2 separate regions of the Homo sapiens genome follow, and region 2 is linked to region 1. The links come from fine-mapping of genetic effects on gene expression. Tissue or cell type: blood mononuclear cells. Region 1 holds a variant in brackets; the other region holds the start of a gene. All regions are shown on one strand. Distances are between the middles of the regions.

Evidence for each region. PIP is the estimated chance that this variant, and not a neighbour inherited with it, causes the effect. A credible set is the group of variants that fine-mapping cannot tell apart.
Region 2: NDST2 starts here. The variant in region 1 is the best candidate, but not a certain one, in a credible set for the expression of NDST2 in blood mononuclear cells (TOPMed, PIP 0.68).

What each region holds. Positions count from the first base shown.
Region 1 is chr10:73,773,331-73,781,972 of GRCh38, reverse strand. LOC107984243 (a long non-coding RNA gene) reads left to right here and starts at 20. Exons shown (of 2, transcript XR_001747500.3): 1 at 20-196; 2 at 371-1,344. It overlaps POFUT4 (protein O-fucosyltransferase 4), which reads right to left. Exons shown (of 3, transcript NM_173540.3): 2 at 8,158-8,642; 3 at 5,754-6,432. The coding sequence ends at 6,288. RefSeq lists enhancers at 1-284, 8,386-8,435, 8,280-8,642. The variant A/G (reference allele first, on the strand shown) is at 2,721.
Region 2 is chr10:73,809,066-73,816,769 of GRCh38, reverse strand. NDST2 (N-deacetylase and N-sulfotransferase 2) reads left to right here and starts at 5,172. Exons shown (of 15, transcript NM_003635.4): 1 at 5,172-5,296; 2 at 5,867-5,971. It overlaps CAMK2G (calcium/calmodulin dependent protein kinase II gamma), which reads left to right. Exons shown (of 23, transcript NM_001367534.1): 22 at 1,523-1,767; 23 at 2,265-4,269. The coding sequence ends at 1,755. It overlaps NDST2-ZSWIM8-AS1 (NDST2-ZSWIM8-AS1 readthrough), which reads left to right and starts at 4,950. Exons shown (of 18, transcript NR_182658.1): 1 at 4,950-5,296; 2 at 5,867-5,971. RefSeq lists silencers at 1,826-2,079, 4,658-5,367, 5,668-5,737.

The sequences.
Region 1 (8,642 bases):
TGCTGGCAGCCACCTCTTTCTTTTACTTGGCCGGGGCTGCGGCGACGCTGGGTTCGAACAGCGGCGGGTTCATACTTGTCAGCAGATTAGGAGGAGACTCTGGGTTCGTACGCCGACTGAGGCTTCTCCTTGATGGGCTCCGGGCCCCGAAGTCTGGGGGCAGTACGGGGCCGGGGACATGCAGGAAAGGGCCCTGGTAAGTGGACACTGTTCTGGTGGTAGCCGGCTTGGTCTAGGGGCGATTGGCATAGGGCGGGGTTGGGGGGGGGGGTGGCGAATCAAAATTTGAGACTTTAAGATGTTGGGTTGGGAAAGATTCGTGTTTTACTTTAATAAACCTGAAAGAACTGTCGTTTTTCACTGCCTATAGGACCACTACAAAGCCGCAAAGAAAAATTAGACTTGTTTCATTTTATAACAACAACAACTGCTACTACTGCTACTAGTTAGATACCGTTTGCTCATTTATAACAATCTCAGTTGGTAGGATGAAGCTTAAACACTTGGCATTCATCGTCTTTTTCAGTCCTCTCGCCAGTCTTACAGACTTGGACCTTCAGTTGTGATGCTTAATCAGAATTTTTTTTGAGATAGGGTCTCTCTTGGTTGCCCAGACTGGAGTGCAAGTGGCACGTTCATAGCTCACTGCAGCTTTAAACTCCTGAACTCAAACGATCCTCCCGCCTCTGCCTCCTGAGTAGCTGAGAACACAGGTGCAAGACACCACGCCCAGCTAATTATTTTTTGTAGAGACGGGGTTTTGTCATGTTGCCCGGGCTGGTCTCGAACTCCTGGGTTCAAGCGATCTTCCTGCCTCGCCCTCCCAAAGTGCTTTACATGACTGAGCCTCCGCGCCCAGCCAGACTTGTTTCTCAAGTGACTTCTTCTGGCCATTTTCACAACTCATTCCAAAGATGTGCAGCATATTCTCAAAGCATTTCCAAATAAGCTCCAAGAAATGTTTTTGGTAATGGAAGCAGAAAACAAGCCTGTAGCTCATGACTACTTTGGAGGAAGAACATTTGGATTTGTAAATTTAGTGTGTTAAAAAAATCACTTATCACAGATGTTTGGAATCTTCCCACTGATTTCTGCATGGCTGCTTATTTTTCTTCCCTTAAGTCTCAGTTCATGTCACAGAGGGCTTCCCTGACCTCTCACACCTCACCACCATCAACCTGTTTTCTCCATAGCACCTATCACAGTCTGAATTGTCTTATTATGGCCTTACCTATCCCTAACACCCATTTAAAAATGTAAGCATGAAAGAAGGAACGTTGTCTATCTTGTTCATTGCTGAATCCCCAGTGCCTAGAATAGTACCAATAAATACTTGTTAAATGAGCAAATGTTTTATTTATTTATTTATTTTTGGATTTGGGGTCTTGTTCTGTCACCCAGGTTGGAGTGCAGTGGAATATTAGCTCACTGCAGCCTTGGCCTCACTCCAGTGATCCTCCTGCCTCAGCTGCTGGAGTAGCTGCGACCACAGGCTCACACCACCAAACCCGGCTGGCTTGGTTTTATTTTTTGTAGAGATGGGGTCTCAGTATGTTGCGCAGACTACTCTTGAACTCCTGGGCTCACGTGAGCTTCCCTCCTTGGCCTCCCAAAGTGCAGGGATTACAGGCATGAGCCACCACACCCAACCTGAAACTTTTTTACAAATCTCCAACTTTATTACACCCACCCCCAAAAAAATAATGAAGCAGAAGACATTGTTTAACAAGAAGCAGTTTATTACACAAAACGAAACCTGAGATAATAGAAAATAACACTTGCAGTAATAAAGGAAGCAGCCTTGCACTCCACCTCCACACTCCAGAGTATAATTAAAAGACTCCTATCAGACATTTCTATCACCAATAATGCCAACCTCTGTATACAGCAGCAGGCTGGGCCCCAAATCAGAAGATTCATGTTGCTTGCTTTCTCTATAGGGAAAGTGAAGCTTTCGGTAAGTATCATGTGGCTATTCCTGGTTCTACTTTCCCTTGTGGAAATGTAATACCTGGTTTACACTGCTCTTTTGTGAGTACGTATATGGTGATAGGAATAAAGGAGAAAGTCTGGAAAGCACCAAGCACAAAGCAGGCCTGAGGCTCCAGCAACAGTCATTCAGAAACAACTGCCCACTTTATACGTAAAAGTATGAAAGGAATGCCAATGTGAGCCCATGTCATTAGGAGAGGTAAGGATAATCTACACCTTGCTTAACCATCACTTAACCTTTTTATTGCACATAATGAAATTTAAGCCCTAACCTAGGTCTGTACTTGTGTAATAATTATGCACTCTAAATTAGCATCTGCATTTAGATAGATTGCAAGCTTAGAAATCAGTCCTGCATTTGACCTCTTTTGTCAGTGCCTACTATATCAAATTTTAACAGATTTTTTTTTTTTTTTTGAAATGGAGTTTTGCTCTTGTTGTCCAGGCTGGAGTGCAATGGCGTGATCTTGGTTCACCACCACCTCCGCCTCCTGGGTTCAAGCGATTCTTCTGCCTCAGCCTCCTGAGTAGCTGGGATTATAGTCATGCGCCACCACGCCCAGCTAATTTTGTATTTTTAGTAGAGATGAGGTTTCTCCATGTTGGTCAGGCTGGTCTTGAACTCCCGACTTCAGGTGGTCTGCCTGCCTTGGCCTCCCAGAGTGCTGGGATTACAGGCGTGAGCCAGCTCACCCAGCCCAACAGATTTTTTTTTTTTTTTTAGACAG[A/G]GGTCTCACTGTGTTGCCCAGTTGGCACTCATAGGCGCACTCACAGCATACTACAGCCTCAAACTCTTGGGCTCAAGCGATCTTCCTGCCTTAGCCTTCTGAGTAGCTGGGACTGCAGACCCATGCCATCACATCTGGCTTAGATATATTTTTGAAGGTTTTTTTTTTTTTTTTTTTTAGTTTCTGGAGTGCAGTGGCGATCCTCCCACTTCAGCCTCCCAAGTAGCTGGATCTACAAGGCACACACACCATGCCCAGCTAATTTTTTCTGTTTTTTGTAGAGATGGGGTTTTACCATGTTACCCAAGCTGGTCTTGAATCCCTGGGCTCAAGCGATCCTCCTACCTTGGCCTCCCAAAGTGCTGGGATCACAGGCATGAGCCACTGCACCCAGCCTGAAGGTCTGTCTTCCCTCTTGTTCTTTTCTGCAAAAGGTCAAACAGGGTAAGCAAACTTTCTGTAATTTATGAAGATCATCTTTTATTAAAGGACTAAATGAAAAAAGAACAACTTTGGCAATAAAATTCAGCCTAATTACAGCTTTTCTTGGCCGCATCCTTAGATGTCAGTATATTAAGTGTAGACCCTAGTTGTTGAAGCATCTAACATATATCTATCTATATAGGTAGATATATAGATATAGGTATAGATAATATTAAACTGTGGAACTTCTCTAGTGATAACTCACTAATACATTACAACTAGAGTAGCCCTAAGGTCCAAGGTATTCTTTCCTGTCCCACTGCCCCAGAAAGAGCTAATGGTCTCCCTGCTCATTAGACTGTATGTTCAAACCACAGCAACAGAAGGGTTTGGCTGCATCCCCAAATCTGACTAAGCTTTTTTTTTTTTTTTTTTTTTGGGATGGAGTTTCGCTCGTCACCCAGGCTGGAGTGCAATGGTGCGATCTCAGCTCACTGCAACCTCTGCCTCCCAGGTTCAAGCAATTCTCCTGCCTCAGCCTCCCAAGTAGCTGGGATTACAGGTGTGAGCCACCGTGCCCAGCTCTGACTAAGCTTTTATTTAGCCAGCCACTTGTGGCTTAAACCTCCTCATCCCCTTGAGTGGGCTCCATCAAAAAGTAGTCTCAGGCTGGGCACGGGGCTCACTCCTGTAATCCCAGCACTTTGGGAGGCCGAGGCGGGTGGGTCACTTGAGGTCAGGAGTCCGAGACCAGCCTGGCCAACATGGCAAAACCCTGTTTCTACTAAAACAAATACAAAAAAATTAGCCAGGCATGGTAGTGCGTGCCTGTAATCCCACCACTCTGGAGGCTGAGACACGAGAATTGCTTGAACCTGGGAGGCAGAGGCTGCAGTGAGCCAAAATCACGCCACTGCACTCTAGCCTTGGTGATGGAGTGAGACTCTGCCTCAAAAAAAAAAAAAAGGTGGGGGCACCTGGGCACGGTGGCTCACGCCTGTAATCCCAGGACTTTGGGAGGCCAAGGCAAGTGAATCACCTGAGCTCAGGAGTTCGACACCAGACTGGCCAACATGGTGAAACCCCATCTCTACTAAAAATACAAAAATTAGCTAGATGTGGTGACGGGCGCCTGTAATCCCCACTACTAGGGAGGCTGAGGCAGGAGAATCACTTGAACTGGGAATGCAGAGATTCTAGTAAGCTGAGATCGCGCCACTGCACTCCAGCCTGGGCAACAAGAGCGAAACTCCATCTCAAAAAAAAAAAAAAAGTCATAGGGAAGCGTATTAGTAATACAGTGAATGAAGCTGGACTATTCATTGCACTTAAAGTGAAAAGTGCTACAGATTATGAAATAATTACTAAAACATACAGCCACACTGTTTCCATAACTGCAGAAGATGGGACTTTGTAGCATATAAAAACAATAAAATAGAGGGAACACTTCATTAGGCAAACAAAAGAATTAGGACCTATAAAAATTTGCACTTTTTTTCCTGGATTTTTTTTTTTTTTTGTCAACCTACTCACCAAAAAATTTGCACTTTGACTCATATTGGCCTATTTTAACATTTCAAAATCATTTAAAGAAAAATATGACTTTTTCTGTCATAATTCCCAGTCTTAGTCTCTATCTTTGATCAAAAAGAGGATAGGGCAATACATTAAATTGACAAGGCATATAACAGCCACTGAATCTTTCTGTTCATGAGAAGAAATCCCAGATACACCATAAATGAGATGCAAACCAGCAGTAAGAATGATGGCAAGGTTTCTGTATTTCCATCAGAAATTGTGGAAAAGGGCCTAAAACCAGGAAAGACAAGGCCATTAAAAAAATGTATTTGAGGCCGGGTGCGGTGGCTGACACCTGTAATCCCAGCACTTTGGGAGGCCAAGGCGGGCGGATCACGAAGTCAAGAAATCGAGACTATCCTTGCCAACATGGCGAAACCCTGTCTCTACTAGAAATACAAAAAATTAGCTGGGCGTGGTGGTGCATGCCTGTAGTCCCAGCTACTCAGGAGGCTGAGGCAGGAGAATCGCTTGAACCAGGGAGGTGGAGGTTGCAGTGACCCGAGATCATGCCACTGCACTCCAGCTGGTGACAAAGCAAGACTCCATCTTAATATATATATATAATTTGAGACGGTGTCTCGCTCTGTCACCCAGGCTGGAGTGCAGTGATCATGATCATAGCTCATTGCAGCCTTAAATTCCTGGACTCAAGTGATCCTCCTGCCTCAACCTCCCAAGTATCTAGGGCTACAGGTGTGCACCACCATGCCCTGCTAATTCTTTTATTTTTTAGAGACAAGGTCTTGCTAGGATGGTCTCAAACTCCTGGCTTCAAGCAGTCGCCTCTCCTCGGCCTCCCAAAGTGTTGGGATTACAGGCATAAGCCACTACGCCTGGCCAGAAAAAGCCAAAAAAAAAAAAAAAATTAGGGCTGGGTGAGGTGGCTGATGCCTGTAAACCCAGCACTCTGGGAGGTCAAGGCGGATGGATTGCTTGATCCAGGAGTTGGAGACCAACCTGGGCAATGTGGCAAAACCTCATCTCTACAAAAAATATTTTAAAAAAATAAATAAATAAGTAAAATAGAAGTTTGACATGAAAGTATATAATATAAAAAAATCCAACTCCGGAAAACCAGAATACAACTCACCAAATGTTTTGCTTCTCCACCAACGTAACAATTTATAAAGCAAGAGATGAGAAAAAGAGATTATTGGGAAATGTACTGAATAATGAGGAGTCTGGGGAATAGAACAAAAGTTGTAAGTCGTAACCTGACCCATCTTACTTCACTGGTAATCAAGTACAGTCGAAAGGATGAAATAAAGAAGTGAGTAGTTTAAAAACTCTGTTGGACCAGCACCTTGAATCAAATGGATGTTTTAGGGTTCTGTTTCCCACTGAACCAAGAATTGTATCCCTCCATCTCTCCTTGAGGAGAGGCCCTATGTTAGACCTTGGCTACTCATCATTAAGATAAAATCTTAATAGATAAAACTGGAATTCCTTGAATCCATGAAAAGACAGTGTTCATTAAGGGTTTGTGCAGTGGATGCTCCTTATGTCCCATGGTAGAATAAGATCTCCTTAGCTCCGCCAAGTTAAAGGCTCTTGCAAGGGCACTTAGAGATGTTGCCTCTTCATGAAGATTTCATGTAGGTAATCCCAAAATTTCGTCTGCTCTGTTTCATTGTTGTGGATCATGGCAGTGAGAGCTTCCCCCTGGTCCAGACCTTGCCAATAATCTTGCAGCCACATCTCTTTCCAACTGAAATATCAAAATGGGGGTTGGATTATGGAACTGCAGCATAGTTATGAGTCCTGCCTTTTTCCGAGTGGGGCCAAAGAAATCTTAAGCAGATACAGTGGTCTCTAACTTGGACAAGACTGCTGTGAAAGGAAGACAAAGTGAAGTAAATCCAATATAAGCCCAAGCGACAGGCAGTAAGTCACAAACACAAAGACATCACACAGACTACCCAATCAATTACGATTCCTGACTTGCCTGCTTCTGGCTCCCAAATGTGGAGGGGGTTCAGAGGCAGGCAAAGCAGAGGCCAGACTGGAAGTGGCAGTCTCCATAAGGAAAGCAAGGGGGCAGGGGTCTTTAGATGATTATCTTTTAAGTTTCACCTTTATGCCAATAATCAAAATGAAGGTGCATCAAAATGAAGTAGCATCCAGTATCTAGAAAAGACATAACCTGAATATTTATTTTCTTAATGTTTCATATTTTTTCATACTTTTCCTCTAGTAAATCATATTATGTTCAGATACAAACAATTTGTAATTAGATACAAATTACTTGGTGAAGGATTCCAACCATCAGGACAAAACTGCCAGCAGCATCTGTTAATAAATGGCCTTCTGCTGCCATCCACTGTCCAAGTCGGTTTCTATAGGCCATTCTAGCAGCCTTACTTCAGCTTAATAATCTTATCACCTCTCCCCCAATAGGTGTGGCTTGCTACAAGTGGTTTCAACATTTTCCCACCCCACACCACACGCTGGCCTTGTTTCCCAGTACCACCACCTTTTGCCACCTACTACAGTAGCCTATTCGCTTCCCTTCTGATGCGCATTGTGCATTGTTTTGTGTGTGTGTGTGTGTGTGACAGGGTCTTACTCCAACCCAGGCTGGAATGCAGTGGCACGATCCTAGCTCACTACAGCATTGAACTCCTAGGTTCAAGCAATCCACCTGCCACAGCCTCCCAAGTAGCCAGGACTACAGGTATGTGCCACCACCCCAGGCTTTTAGTTTTTAAATTGTACAGAGAGGCTCTTATTATATTGTCCAGGCTGGTCAATATATTATATTATATATTATATTGTCTCTGGCCTCAAGTGTTCCTCCCCCCTTGACCTCCCAAAGTGCTGGGATTACAGGTGTGAGCCACCGTGCCCGGCCATGCCTAGTTTTTCTAGTTACACAGGCAGTGTGTCCCCACCTGCACCAACTACATGGGGCTCATCCTCAGCACAGCCGCTTAAAAAAAAAAATTATGGCTGGTTAACAGGTGTAACCCCTGACTACTGCAGAAAAGCCTCTCTAAAAGTGCTCTTCTCTACTGCCCAACCCCATTTCCACTCTATAAAAGGTGCTCAAATAGCTGAGTTGATTTTTAGTGCAGTGCAAACTCCTGAACCTGGTATTAATGATATTTATAGCCTTGTCCCTATTTATTTGCCCCATTTTCTCTCTCCCCTGTCTGCACAGGCCCTGTACTCTGGTTCAATCTTTTTGAACCACTACTGGAAACATTGTTCACATAAGCTGATTTTCATACGTTGCCTTGAATTATATTTTACATCTATTCAGCTTTTTCAGCTTGTCTTATCCCCCCAACTAGACTGTTGACACCTTAAATACAGAATGAGCCCATGTGATAATTTCCTCCTGCACCTGCTCAGCACCTAGTGCTACTTAATTGCCCACAGTAAGCAAGTAAGTAAATGATTTGATAGCTGCAGGGGACCCCAGCACTCTTACCTGTCATTCTCAGGAATCTCTTCCACATTGCCAAAGCCAGGTGTGGGCACTGGGCAGTCCATGTGTGAGGGCTGGGCAATGTGGGGCTCAAAGACGGGGCTGTCCCCGGGAGAGGCCGCGTGGGCTTTCTCGGCATCCAGCCGAGCCAGTTCGTAGTCACAGACGAAACACTCGAAGCCGTTGAGGTAGTTAGGCAGCAAAGGATCATTCACTCCCCACTCCCGATGCTTCAGACTATCCAGAAGAAATTGGTTGGTGATGCCCCCAGGTTGCTTGTATGCCAGGTATTTCATATACTCCTCATCATTCTTGTCCAGAAAGTCAATAAACTCTGCCAGCTTCTGAGGAGACTCAAAATCATCAATCAGGATGACGGAGTGATTGTTCGGCATCCAGTCCCTCACAGAGGGAGAACCGCGGTACACGGGCACAGCGCCCAGGTGCATGGGACGCCACAGTTTTTCTGTCATGTAGTCGTTACAGAT
Region 2 (7,704 bases), 35 kb before region 1:
CACTTATTTCTTGCCGGGCGCGGTGGCTTACGCCTGTAATCCCAACACTTTGGGAGGCTGAGGCTGGCGGATCACGAGGTCAGGAGATCGAGGCCATCCTGGCTAACACGGTGAAACCCCATCTCTACTAAAAATACAAAAAATTAGCCGGGCGTGGTGGCGGTGCCTGTAGTCCCAGCTACTCGGGTGGCTGAGGCAGGAGAATGATGTGAACCTGGGAGGCAGAGCTTGCAGTGAGCCAAGATCAGGCCACTGCACTCCAGCCTGGGCAACAGAGCAAGACTCCATCTCAAAAAAAAAGAAAAAATTATTTAAGCCTCACCTCTTTCCAAGACGGATTGGAAGGAAACCCTTTGAGATTAGGTTGAGATGATCTCAGCACATAAGAACTAAGCTCTGTGTCTGCAGGTTTCACAATAGAGGAAATTAAAACCAGGATAAGAATGTGCAAACCAGGGCACTGTTGGTGATTTGCGAGATCGGAAGTTGTGGCTAGAATCTTCCTGACTATGGAGGAAGGCAGACGTCTTGTATAGGGGGTGGGGTGTACATTCTGGACAGTTCATGGAAAATAAGGGGATAAGAAGCTGAATCATCACCCCCTCCCATCTTTCTCTCTGCTCTATGAGACCCTCCCCTTCCTTATTTTTATCTCTTCCCACTTTATGCTGGGCCTTCCCTATCCTGCCCTGAGTTATAGTTAGTCACTAACTTCTCCGCTGGCTCCCACCCTTATCACATCTCAGCTACATATATAAACTCTCTGTTATCTAAGTAATTCTATTAGCCAGAAGCAATTCCAGAGTTTATATTAGTACTAGGAAGGTGTCATGTAGCCCCTGTCTAACATTTGAATTGAACTAAAATGTGAATCTCAATAAAAGCAACACAGTTTTCACAGCATATGCTGATAATGGCAATCCAACTTCTTTTGCCTTTTCCCCAGAGAATCCTGGGAATATCCTGAGCTTGGTGCTTTGATGATTCTATTTCAGCTTTGGTGCCTTAAAAAAAATTACAAATCAATTTTGAATGGTTTAAGTTCATGATTTTGTTCTGCAGCCCTAGCTAGGGGTGAGCCAAGCCTTATGAAATCTAAACTCAGCCTAACAGAATAGAAAATCTATAGGCTTTAGTTAAGAGTCACATGGTCCTGAGTTCAGGTGTGTGATTTGAGCAAATTATTCCTTGAGCCTATTTCCTCATCTTATAATGAAGAAAATATTATCCACCAAGAAATACAGCTCGGGCATGTAAAACCCCAGCACAATGCCTGATTAAAAGCGCAGCAGGTACTGTCACTGTTACCCATCTTTCTGTTCCTTTTGGATAAAGGAGACTAATGTAATGTGGCATCCTGGCCTCTGGAGGGCGTTCAGGGGTTCGGGGGTGGGGGGGGGCGGTACTTGGAGATTCTGGGAGTGGTTGCTTGGGAGATGGTAAGACTTGGAAGTGCAGGCTGGGAGGAAAATGCAGGTGCCCAGGCCTGATGTCCTCTTACCTACCCCACCCTGCCCTGCAGTCCTGTCCAAGAACAGCAAGCCTATCCATACCACCATCCTAAACCCACACGTCCACGTGATTGGGGAGGACGCAGCGTGCATCGCCTACATCCGCCTCACCCAGTACATCGACGGGCAGGGTCGGCCTCGCACCAGCCAGTCAGAAGAGACCCGGGTCTGGCACCGTCGGGATGGCAAGTGGCTCAATGTCCACTATCACTGCTCAGGGGCCCCTGCCGCACCGCTGCAGTGAGCTCAGCCACAGGTGCACCTGGTTGACGGGGGAGAGGGGCTGGAAGGGCCTGGGATAGGTGGGGTCAGAGGAAGAAGAGAAGGCTGGGAGGTGGTCCTGGGAGAGGAGGTGTGGGCCGTCCCAGAGGACTGGCAAAGCCTGGCAGAATGGTTGCAATAAGTTATGCTTGGAAATCAGACAGACTAGGGTCTGGCTCCGTGACTCCAAATTGGATGACCTCAGACAGGTTACTTCCCCTCCCTAAACTGTTTCCTTAGCTGTCAAAGAAAGGCAGAGAGTGGTGCCTACCTCATTTAATCATTGTGAGGATTAAGTAAGATACTATAAGTAAAGCACTTAGTTAGTGCTTAGCAAATGGGAGGCAGTTTTGTATTTAAGCATTAGCTTCACCCACTTTCCCCACCTTCTCAGGCCGACTTGGCCATGTGTTTAGCGTGCTAAAGTCGCTGGAACTCATCTGTGTGCTCATTGTCCTCTGTTCTGTTACCACATTCTGTCCTGTTTGACAGGGGCTTTAGGAGATTCCAGCCGGAGGTCCAACCTTCGCAGCCAGTGGCTCTGGAGGGCCTGAGTGACAGCGGCAGTCCTGTTTGTTTGAGGTTTAAAACAATTCAATTACAAAAGCGGCAGCAGCCAATGCACGCCCCTGCATGCAGCCCTCCCGCCCGCCCTTCGTGTCTGTCTCTGCTGTACCGAGGTGTTTTTTACATTTAAGAAAAAAAAAAAAGAAAAAAAGATTGTTTAAAAAAAAAAGGAATCCATACCATGATGCGTTTTAAAACCACCGACAGCCCTTGGGTTGGCAAGAAGGCAGGAGTATGTATGAGGTCCATCCTGGCATGAGCAGTGGCTCACCCACCGGCCTTGAAGAGGTGAGCTTGGCCTCTCTGGTCCCCATGGACTTAGGGGGACCAGGCAAGAACTCTGACAGAGCTTTGGGGGCCGTGATGTGATTGCAGCTCCTGAGGTGGCCTGCTTACCCCAGGTCTAGGAATGAACTTCTTTGGAACTTGCATAGGCGCCTAGAATGGGGCTGATGAGAACATCGTGACCATCAGACCTACTTGGGAGAGAACGCAGAGCTCCCAGCCTGCTGTGGAGGCAGCTGAGAAGTGGTGGCCTCAGGACTGAGAGCCCGGACGTTGCTGTACTGTCTTGTTTAGTGTAGAAGGGAAGAGAATTGGTGCTGCAGAAGTGTACCCGCCATGAAGCCGATGAGAAACCTCGTGTTAGTCTGACATGCACTCACTCATCCATTTCTATAGGATGCACAATGCATGTGGGCCCTAATATTGAGGCCTTATCCCTGCAGCTAGGAGGGGGAGGGGTTGTTGCTGCTTTGCTTCGTGTTTTCTTCTAACCTGGCAAGGAGAGAGCCAGGCCCTGGTCAGGGCTCCCGTGCCGCCTTTGGCGGTTCTGTTTCTGTGCTGATCTGGACCATCTTTGTCTTGCCTTTTCACGGTAGTGGTCCCCATGCTGACCCTCATCTGGGCCTGGGCCCTCTGCCAAGTGCCCCTGTGGGATGGGAGGAGTGAGGCAGTGGGAGAAGAGGTGGTGGTCGTTTCTATGCATTCAGGCTGCCTTTGGGGCTGCCTCCCTTCTTATTCTTCCTTGCTGCACGTCCATCTCTTTTCCTGTCTTTGAGATTGACCTGACTGCTCTGGCAAGAAGAAGAGGTGTCCTTACAGAGGCCTCTTTACTGACCAACTGAAGTATAGACTTACTGCTGGACAATCTGCATGGGCATCACCCCTCCCCGCATGTAACCCAAAAGAGGTGTCCAGAGCCAAGGCTTCTACCTTCATTGTCCCTCTCTGTGCTCAAGGAGTTCCATTCCAGGAGGAAGAGATCTATACCCTAAGCAGATAGCAAAGAAGATAATGGAGGAGCAATTGGTCATGGCCTTGGTTTCCCTCAAAACAACGCTGCAGATTTATCTGCACAAACATCTCCACTTTTGGGGGAAAGGTGGGTAGATTCCAGTTCCCTGGACTACCTTCAGGAGGCACGAGAGCTGGGAGAAGAGGCAAAGCTACAGGTTTACTTGGGAGCCAGCTGAGAAGAGAGCAGACTCACAGGTGCTGGTGCTTGGATTTAGCCAGGCTCCTCCGAGCACCTCATGCATGTCCCAGCCCCTGGGCCCTAGCCCTTTCCTGCCCTGCAGTCTGCAGTGCCAGCACGCAAATCCCTTCACCACAGGGTTTCGTTTTGCTGGCTTGAAGACAAATGGTCTTAGAATTCATTGAGACCCATAGCTTCATATGGCTGCTCCAGCCCCACTTCTTAGCATTCTTACTCCTCTTCTGGGGCTAATGTCAGCATCTATAGACAATAGACTATTAAAAAATCACCTTTTAAACAAGAAACGGAAGGCATTTGATGCAGAATTTTTGCATGACAACATAGAAATAATTTAAAAATAGTGTTTGTTCTGAATGTTGGTAGACCCTTCATAGCTTTGTTACAATGAAACCTTGAACTGAAAATATTTAATAAAATAACCTTTAAACAGTCCATTGTGTTACTGCTGTTGGAGGTTTACGGCCAGAGGCGTAGATTTTAGCAGCCTGGCTTACCAGGTTGGAGAGAGTACCTCCTCCTACTCCCTTTGGGTACTTTTGAGAATAAAACTTCCTCATGCCTGTAATCCCAGTACTTTGGGAGGCCGACGCGGGCGAATCACGAGGTCAGGAGTTCGAGACCAGCCTGGCTAATATGGTGAAACCCCGTCTCTACTAAAAAATACAAAAAATTTAGCTGGGCATAGTGGCGGGCGCCTGTAATCCCAGCTGCTCGGAAGGCTGAGGCAGGAGAATCGCTTGAACCTGGGAGGGGGAGGTTGCAGTGAGCCGAGGTCGCGCCACTGCACTCCAGCCCAGGCGACAGAGTGAGACTCCGTCTCAAAAAAAAAAAAAAAAAAAAAAAAAAAAAAAAAAAACTTCTCATAAACAGCCTCCAAACAGCGCTCGGTGCTGCGCAGGCGACGCGGGGCGGGGAGGGAGGGTGAGTGCCCTGGGAGCCGGCTGAGGGCCTCGCCCCGCCCCTGGTCCCGCCTCCGGTTAGGCCGCTCCGCCTCTTACTCCTCCCCTCCCCCGAGTGGGCCGGCCCGGCTCCCCCTCCGCGGGGCTGAGTGGATGAGCCCAGGCCTGAGCCCGCCCCTGCTCCGAAGTCGTGGTCCCCGACGCTCGGCCGGCAGTGCCATCGCGCGGAGAGGAGGGGGTGCGCTTCCGCGGGCGGGGCGCGGAGCCCGCCGTCTCGGAGGCCGCGGCTCGGCCCGGCACTGCGGAGGGCCGCTTGATTTCCCGGAACCCAGGTCGCGCGGCTGCTAGGGCCGGAGCCGGTGGATCCGAGCGGGTGCCACCAGCGGCGGCGCGCCGCCTCCCCCGGTGGGAGCGGTGGTTGGGCCAGGCTGCGGCAGAGCGTTCGCTCGGAGATGGCGGAGCAGCCGCGACGCGGCCCGTGGCCCCGAAAGCAGGGAAGCCGGGCAGCCCCGGGACGCGGCGGAGCCCGGGGACAGCGGGGACGCCGCCCAGTCCTCCGGGTGAGCCGCCCCTGAGGAGACCCCCCCGCCCACGGTCGCGCTCAGGCCCCCCCAACAGACTCCCTTGGATGTTGCCACCATCACCACCCGCAGGGTCGTCCCGGGCGGCCCAGCGTGCGCCGCGCCCCGGGTCCTTTCCGCCGGCCTCCCTCAGAACCGCCTCGCTCCCCTCCGGACCGGGCGGGCTCCCTTCTTCCCGCAGGGCTCTCCCAGCCCAGAGGCTGTCTCGATGTCACCCCGGAGTCGCCGCCGCGCGCCTGTGGCCCCTTCCCCTTTGGTGTCCCACATCCGGTGCGCTCTTCGCATCCACCTGTGCCCCCGTCTCCTCTCGGCGGGGCCCCTCCACCCGCCAGCCCCGGGCCCCCTCGGCGCCCGCAGCCTCCGCGCCGCTGCTCCGGCCGTCCCGGCCTCCCCAAGCCCGGGCCCGGCCCCGGCCCCCGTCTGGCTTCGCCGTCCTCAGAGATCTCCCGCACACACCCACCCCGCCCAGCCCTGCTGGCCCTCAGTGTTCACTGGCCCGGCCTGCGGCGCTCCCGGCGCCCCTTCCCTAAACCTTGCTGCTTCTTCCAGGTATGAAGCTAAAATGCAGCGGCTAAGAACGCGGCTCTGGAGCTTGACAGGCCTGACGTCGAATCCCAGCCCTCCCACCAACTGAGCTGTGTGATCCTGGGCAAGGTTCTAAGCTTCTCTGAGTTACTCATATGTGAAATGGGGATAATGGAGCATGTACCTTTTCCCTACCTCTTAGGGCTGGTGTGAAGATTAAATATATGTGAAGCTCTTAGAAGAATGGCTGGCAAGTTGTAATTTCTCAAATACGGGATGATACACCCTGAGTATCAACTTCCCGTCAGTGACCTCCTCACTACAATGTTTTCTCTAAAGTTGCATCACATTCTTAGCATTCACCCCTTCCCGTCACCATTTTGATCCTCTCCCCCAGCTGTCTTCTCGTGTCGTTTTACCTAGGCCAAAGCTGAACTGTTTTATTTTTATTTTTATTTTTATTTTTTTTTGAGCTGGAGTCTAGCTCTGTCACCCAGGCTGGAGTACAGTGGCACAATCTCAGCTCACTGCAATTTCCGCCTCCCACGTTCAAGTGATTCTCCTGCCTCAGCCTCCTGAGTAGCTGGGACTACAGGCGCCCACCACCATGCCCATCTAATTTTTGTATTTTTAGTAGAGACGGGGCTTCACCATGTTGGCCAGGCTGGTCTCGAACTCCTGACCTCAAGTGATCACCCGCTTCGGCCTTTCACAGTGCTGGAATTACAGGCGTGAGGCACCACGCCTGTCCTGAACTGTTTTTAAATCATCTCTGTCAATTCTGAAGGACCTCAGCTCTGCCTTATCACCCCTGAGATGTGTGTTTGGGGGTGGGTGGTAGAGAGGGATTGCCAGCCTTACAAGGAGGCTGAGTGGGGATAGTGACAATAAAGCTTACAGAAGCAGTCGATTTAAGAAAAAGAACAGACTCAGGAGGCTGAGGCCGGAGGATTGTCTGTCTGACCCCAGGAGTTCAAGACCAGCCTGGGCAACGTAACAAGACCCCCATCTCTAAAAAAAATTAAAAATTAGTAGGGTGTGGTGGTGCAAAGCTGTAGTCCCAGCTACATGGGAGGCTGAGGTGGGAGGATCACTTGAGCCCAGGAGTTTGAAGCTGCAGTAGGCTATGATCACACTAGCACACTGTATCCTGGGTGACAGAGCAAGACTCCATCTAAAAATAATAAAAGAGATCCCCAAAATTAGACCTCCTTAAAACTGTTTTCTGATCACACTGTCCTTTTTCCTTCTGTCATTGGTTGGATGTGACTTAAGCTCCTGTTGCTCTCTGTCATCCAGTCCTTACTCAAGTTGTTCTGTTTGTGTAACTGGACTCAATACCTCATGTCTCTCCAGACTAGCTCAGGGACTCTTCTGAGCTGTTTAGGAATAGGGTTGTAGAACTACTTAGGCTAAGTTAGGAAGGAGAAGTAGAGTGGACTCAGCTGTATGGCTTTTCTCAGCACCCAGTGTGTGGCCTGCTCAGGGGTTACATTTTTATCTCCTGACTGGCAAAGTTGAGGTGAAGGTCAGGGGCAGGTAATGTTTCACAAGCAACGGGTAAGGGAGTCCCTAATTTCTGGGTTTGGAAACTGGTAGAATGATTACCTATCATGAGGATTGCTCTTTCCTTTTGAACTCCCCCACCATAGTGTCCACCTGACTGCAAGTTCGTTAAAGCTGTTGGCTGTGATATTGGGTTTGATTGATGAGAAGATTAACAGACTCATGAGTTCCTTATCTGATATTTTGTTGGAGCATGGGACTTCTGAAGACTTCCGGGGCTTTCCGTCCCTTCCTCACAGAAAGATCAGAGCTGTTGCTGGCTGCCAGCTGCTCGGTCATGGGCTAGGAACTCCTTT